2 linked regions of the Homo sapiens genome follow. The protein of the gene in region 1 purifies or fractionates together with the protein of each later gene. This does not show direct contact. Each region holds a gene or a part of one and is shown on either strand. Other genes may lie near its edges.

The links. The genes of interacting proteins can lie anywhere in the genome.
Region 2: the proteins of CHD1L (region 1) and DEK purify together in Homo sapiens (affinity purification with mass spectrometry, with the first as the bait; one large-scale study listed by BioGRID). This does not show direct contact.

The regions. Positions count from the first base shown.
Region 1 is NC_000001.11:147,287,620-147,291,272, forward strand, and holds part of CHD1L (chromodomain-helicase-DNA-binding protein 1-like), read left to right. Parts: intron 1-15; coding exon 16-114; intron 115-3,653. UniProt on the Homo sapiens protein: ATP-dependent chromatin remodeler that mediates chromatin-remodeling following DNA damage.
Region 2 is NC_000006.12:18,233,478-18,237,130, reverse strand, and holds part of DEK (protein DEK), read left to right. Parts: intron 1-530; coding exon 531-679; intron 680-3,653. UniProt on the Homo sapiens protein: Involved in chromatin organization.

The DNA of each region.
Region 1 (3,653 bases):
TCTTTCTTCAAACAGATGACTCTGGCCACTGGGGCAGAGGTGGTTTATTTACAGCTCTGGAAAAGCGATCCGCTGAGCCAAGAAAAATATATGAGCTGGCTGGGAAAATGAAAGGTAAGAAGCAAAGCAGAGGGAAAGGTTAAGGGTGGAATAAGAGAGAAGAGGACACCTAAGACTGTATCGTGAGGGTTACACAGCACTAGATAAGGAATTAGAATAACCAGTTGGGGACTGAATTCTGTCATAAATTAGCTACTTGTTCTGTGACTTCAAGGCATTCCTTTACCTTTTCTGTACCTGTTTCCTCATCTGTGATTTGTGAATAATACTTGTTCTGCCTACTTCATAGAACTGTAGTAAGCATAATAAATGTGTGTATTCTGAAAAATGTTGATCCCTGCATACATGTTAAAGTATTGGAATGGGCTGGACACAGTGGCCCATGCCTGTAATCCCAGACTTTGGGAGGCTGAGGCAGGAGGATTGCTTGAGGCCAGGAGTTTGAGACCAGCTTGGGCAACATAGTGAGATCCTGTCTCTACCAAAAATTTAAAAATTGGCTGGATGTGGTGGTGCATGCCCGTAGTTCCAGCTACTCAGGAGGCTGAGGTGGGAGGATCACTTGAGTCTAAGAGGTTGAGGTTGCAGTGAGCTGTGATTACACCACTGTACTACAGCCTGAGTGAGAGTGAGACCCTGTTTCAATAAAAAAAAAAAAAAAAAAAAAGAAAAAGAGAACTATTGGAATAAACATGAAGGAATATGTCATGAAAATATCAAAGATCTATGGGAAGCCGGGCGTGGTGGCTCACAGCTGTGATCCCAGCAATTTGGAAGGCCGAGACGAGGCAAGGAATTCAAAACCAGCCTCACCAATATGGCAAAGCCCTGTCTCTACAAAAAAATACAAAATTAGCCAGGCATGGTGGCACATGCCTGTAATCCCAGCTACTCAGGAGGCTGAGGCAGAAGAATCACTTGAACCTGGGAGGTGGAGGTTGCAATGAGCTGAGATCATGCCATTGCACTTCAGCCTGGGTGACTGAGCAAGACTGTCTCAAGAAAAAGACCTATGGGAGAGAAATTGGACATACCATTAAAATGCTGACAAGAACTCGGGTTTGGTGCTGAGTGGAATGAAGATGTGTTAAGAGGTCAGCACAACCTTGGGTATAACACTCCCTGGAGACAGAAATAAAGCTGTTGGGTGCCAGGGGAACTTAGAAGCCTGAACAATATTGTCCTTTGGCACAGAGAAGGGAAAAAGGCACCTCCTTTTACATCCAGAAATAACAAAGTGGCAAGAATAAAATTATTATTGTGGTGATTTTCTGGAGATTGAAGGACCTTGTCTGATAGAGAAGGGCCCTCCAGATTCCTTAGATATTGTTTTTTCCTAATTCTGCCCAGTTCTCTATGGTGGAAAGGGATATAAGAACTTAGAATGACTACTTTTTCTAGTAAAACAAGTTACTGAAAGAAGGGTTTAATGTGTGTTGAAATAGTCAATCCAGATCTAGATGCTGATTGGGCAGTTGGCAAAGCAAAACCCAGGGAAGGTCAGAGCTGGAGGTGCAGATTGAGGAGTCCCTGTTTGGAGTCTGTGTTTAAAATCATGTGGGAGAGAGGATGGAGAAATGAGAGGCAGAGAACAGACCTGGAAAACACCTCTACTTAGGACTTGAGGCAAGAAGATGGAATTTCTGACAGAAGGAATTGTCAGACAATTAGGGAACCTTGTGCGGTATTTTGAGGTACAAGGGAGGAAAGTATGTCAAGAAGGCAAAGAAGTTCATGGTATTAGACACTGAAGTGAGGATGAATTGGGAAAAGGCCATGGATTTTGACCCAAGGTTGCTCACCTTGGAGCACTTTGAGGAGAGTGGGAAGCTCAGACTTAAGGCCTGAGGGCTCAGGAAGGAAATGGAGATGAGAGTGTGCAGTTTTCTCTGAAGGAGGATTGAAGCAGGTTGCAGCAAAGTAGGTGAAACTGTGGATTCCAATTCCCAGGGAAGGCTTCATGGAGGTCCTGGGCCTGGAAAGGTGGGTTGAATTTGAATAGGTGGAGAGAAATGGCAAGAGGATCCCCAACTGCTCATTACAACACTTACTATTCCTTGTCTGTGGGTATTGAAGGACCCAGGCAGTTAGCCTGTTCCTTTGTGTGGAGGATGGCGTACAGGCCATGCAGGCCAGAGTGGAGGGTTTAGGCAGAAGAATAGAGGAGAGTTTCGTTTTCATCAGCGGCTTGGGCCACATCATAGAAGACGTCACATGATTTGTCCAGGGAGATGCCATTCTGCGCAGAACCTTATCTAATGGAATGGGTAATAGCTGGTCGTTTTGGGGGATTTGATCAAAAGGATGGCATAGCACAACCAGTATTTTAGAATGACTGAACAAAAAGTTCAAACTGGTATCAACCTAACCAATAGACAGGGTCTGTAAAATAAAAGGAACAAAGGTTTTTTGTTGTTTTGTTTTTGTTTTTGAGATGGAGTCTCATTGTCTGGAGTGCAGTGGCCCGATCTTGGCTCACTGCAATATCCACCTCCCAGGCTCAGGAAATCCTCCTGCCTCAGCCTCCCAAGTAGCTTTGTACCACAGGCGCACACCACCATGCCCGGCCACTCTTTTGAATTTTTGGTAGAGACAGGGTTTTGCCATGTTGCCCAGGCTGGCCTCAAACTCCTGAGCTCAAGTGGTCCACCTCCCTCAGCTTCTCCAAGTGCAAGGATTACACACATAAGCCACTGCACCCAGCCTGAGGTTTTTAAGGAGAAATGAGGAAGATTACATACTTTTTTTGAATCAGTTATCCTTGGCTACAAGGATTAGTAAGGGTGGCACCACGCCGAGGTTGGGCAGGCAGTTGATGAGCAGATGTCTTTGCAGAAGTATATTTTTATGTAAGCTTGCCAGGGCCCTTGTGCAAGGTCATGGGTTTTGTAAAATCTGTTGTGATAGTTCTTGTTATCAGACGTTTATGCATTAGAACCTTCCCTTCATGGCCTTCCCTGGCTCTATTTGTCAGAGTTTTGTTTTATTTTTTGAGATAGGGTCTCACCCTGTCACCCAGGCTGGAGTGCACTGGCGTGATCATAGCTCACCACAGCCTCGAACTCCTTTGCTCAAGAGATCCTCCCACCTCAGCCTCCCAAGTAGCTAAGACTACAGGTTCACAACACCAAACCTAACTTTTTCTTATTTTTTGTAGAGACTGGGTCTTGCGCCTTGTTGCCCAGGTTAGTCTGGAACTCTGGCTTCCAGCAATCCTCCCACCTCAGCCTCCCAAAGCACTGGGATTATAGTCATGAGTCACTGTGCTCGGCCATATATGTCAGTTTTTAACACAAGCATCTCTATTTTGATTCTAACCGCTTTCACATCAGCTTATGTAAAGCCATAGAATTAAATTAGCACATTTTTCTTCACTATCAGTTTTACTTGATTTGGATGGGGTAGGAAAATATATTATACAAACAGGTAGAGATAAAGTAGAATGTAATAATTTGAATGATTTAGGACAAGCACAAAACTACCAAAGGAATTTCAAGCTCATAGTGCTCCCTCCCCAAAGCCCCCCAGCTACCTCTGGGTTTTGTATTCACTTTCTGATGTCTACAGGGGTACTTTGTTGTTAATGTTTGAGG
Region 2 (3,653 bases), on another chromosome or scaffold:
ATTCATTCATGTTTCATATTCATCTTAAATAGCCTGAAGGTAGTTTAATATTTTAACTAAATAAATTATTTATTGCAGTGGTGCCGTTACAGCTCACTGTAGCCTTGAACTGCTGGACTCAAGCGAGTCTCCTATCTTGGCCCCCCAGAGCACTGGGTTTACAGGCTTGGACCACTGCCCTTGGCCTGAAACCAAGTTTTGACTGCGACCCGTCACACGAGGTCGGGTATGGAATTACCTCCTGGTGGTGTCATGTTGGTGCTCTGAAAAGCTGGATTTTGGAACATTTCAGGTTTTGGATTTTTGGATTAGGGATGCCTAACCTGTATACCAGTTTTTTATAGTTTTTGATTTTTCAAATTGACTAAAATTTGTATGCATGTTTTATAGGTAACTGTAGAGTAGTGATTTATAATTTTTTTGATCCAGTACCCCTTTGAGAATCTGTTGAAAGCTTAAAATTCATCTCAGCCTTTGTTAAATGTTAATTTACTATGTAAGAAAAATTATTATTATTATATTACTTTTAGAAAGTGAGTCTGAGGATAGTTCAGATGATGAACCTTTAATTAAAAAGTTGAAGAAACCCCCTACAGATGAAGAGTTAAAGGAAACAATAAAGAAATTACTGGCCAGTGCTAACTTGGAAGAAGTCACAATGAAACAGATTTGCAAAAAGGTAATTAGACAAATGTTTAGATTATTTTGCTTTTGCTAGAAAAATTCTTTCACTTATCTCTGAATTTGAAGCTAAATACTTACGTGCATTCACTTATTGAAGAAAGATTTATTGAACTACTATATGCCAGATCTCCTTACAGGTGCTGGGATACCACTTAAAATAGTCAAAGTCTCTGTCCTAATAGAGTTATTTTATAAACAACATTAAAATGAATAAAGTTAGAGTGAATAAAATTAAAGTGACACATTCCAAACCACATAGGAAACTTTTTCTGATCTGTAGGTTGTTTCTATTGATGTATCCTTAGTTTATGTTAGTTTAAAGAAGCAGAATCTCATGAACCGTCTTATTCTCTTCTTAGTGTGATAAATGAGCTGTTATAGATTAGGTTCTTAACTCAGACTTCTGCAGCGTCTTTCTAATATTTCTAATACTTCTCAGGAAATAAAGTGGCCTTGTCTTGAATATGATTCCATAGGGATTCTATGGAAATTTTAGAAACTTGTCTGTTGGGGTAAAATAAAATTACAATTTGGAATGTACCAAAAGTGAAATAGTCTGTGCTTTTTTAAAGGACATTGATTATTATTTTGTTCATTCATTCACCATTCATTGATTCTCTACTACATTTCAGGCACTGGGCTAAATGTTACAGGTAGAAGCTAGATGTGGTGGCTCACGCCTGTAATCCCAACACTTTGATAGGCTGAGGCAGGAGGACTGCTTGAGGCCAGGAGTTCAAGACCAACCTGGGCAGCATAGTGAGATCCCGTCTCTACCAAAAAAAAATTTTTTTTAATGTTACAGGTGGAACCAGAGAAGCCATTACTTAGCTTTCAAGAGGAGCTTACAGTCTAGTGGGATGGAAAGAGATAAATATTTTAGTAATTAAAATATTGTAAGCGAGGGCTGTGTTAGAATATGGAAGGTACTGCAGTGCCACAGAACAAGCACCCTACTTGAGGCTGGGGGAATCTGGAAAAGCATCTTGGAAGAGCTCTTAACTGAATTTCCTAGTGGAGCATCACCCATTCTATACAGTTGAGGAACAATAACACATTAACCAAAACAATAATTGAAAGGAATAGTATTAGTTCAACATGTCTCAAGACTAGGATTGGAAAGAAGTCCTCACAGAAGTTAGGAGAAAATATTAGAGTTTTGCAGATCTTAAATATGCCATGTTAGAGTTTGAGTTTCTTCCTGAAATAAATGAGGAATTCAGAGGCTATGTAGATTATTGAGATTTAGCAGGGGCATAACGCAATCATATTTTTATTTTTAAAAGTTATCCTAGAAACATTAAGAACAATGCAATAGCAAAGGATGAGATGAGAGAGGCAGGACACCCAGTTATATCATCATTAAAATGACAGTGTGGAGTGGAGAGGAAGTCAAAGAGAAATTAGTTCTGTCCATTAGAAGGATTTTTGTGAATACCTTCATGTAAATTTTTTAAAGGGATTAATAACATGGAGAGGTCAGGTGAGAAGGAACTGACCTGTTTTGGAGTCTGCAATTAGGAGACGATGACATAGGGTGGTAAAAGCAAGAGTTATTAATGAATAGTGAGGAAAATGAACAAAGTAACTTCTGTTTCAAGCAGCTGTCTTTGGAAGGAAAATAGTAGGTAAATGGGAGTAGGTGAGAAAGTATTTTTAATGGGTAGTAGGGGTGGAGGGGAGAAAGCAATTTGGTGGGAAAGGAGAAGTTACAGGAGAGGTGAAGGGTGGTCCTGTGGAGGCAAAATTAAGAACCATTGATGAATCCAGATACAACTGGAGGGGAAAGTGCTGTCAGAAAATTGAAGGAATTCATAATAATGGCTTTTTGGCTGACAGTAGCAGTGTGAGACACTTGAATAAGGAGATGAAACTGCCATTGGTGGAAATGAAAGGAGAGAGCCTGACTGGGAGCTCCAGGGGGAGGAGCCTTTGAAGATGAATGCCATGAACTGAAAATGAGACCAGTCTCTTCAAAGTTATTTTCCCACAGCAATCTGTAGTCTGGGCTTAACCATAGAAAAATGAGTGGTTAGACCAATTCGGGATTGGGGTTTTGCAGGGAAAGAACAAGGGGCAAACAATTTTTTTCTTTTTTTTAATACTTTTAAGTTCTAGGATACATGTGCACAACGTGCAGGTTACATATATATATATATATATATATCCATGTGCCATGTTGATGTGCTGCACCCATTAACTGGTCATTTACATTAGGTGTATCTCCTAATGCTATCCCTCCCCCGTCCCCCCCACCCCACAACAGGCCCCGATGTGTGATGTTCCCCTTCCTGTGTCCAAGCGTTCTCATTGTTCAATTCCCACCTATGAGTGAGAACATGCAGTGTTTGGTTTTCTGTCCTTGCGATAGTTTGCTGAGAATGATGGTTTCCAGCTTCATCCATGTCCCTACAAAGGACATGAACTCATCCTTTTTTATGGCTGCATAGTATTCCATGGTGTATATGTGCCACATTTTCTTAATCCAGTCTATCATTTGGGTTGGTTCCAAGTCTTTGCTATTGTGAATAGTGCCGCAATAAACATAACATGTGCATGTGTCTTTATAGTAGCATGATTTATAATCCTTTGGGTATATCCCCAGTAATGGGATGGCTGGGTCAAATGGTATTTCTGGTTCTAGATCCTTGAGGAATCGCCACACTGTCTTCCACAATGGTTGAACTAGTTAAAGTCCCACCAGCAGTGTAAAAGTGTTCCTATTTCTCCACATCCTCTCCAGCACCTGTTGTTTCCTGACTTTTTGATGATCTCCATTCTAACTGGTGTGACATGGTATCTCCTTGTGGTTTTGATTTCATTTCTCTGATGGCCAGTGATGATGAGCATTTTTTCATGTGTCTGTTGGCTGCATAAATGTCTTCTTTTGAGAAGTGTCTGTTCATATCCTTTGCCCACTTTTTGATGGGGTTGTTTGATTTTTTCTTGTAAATTTAAGTTCTTTGTAG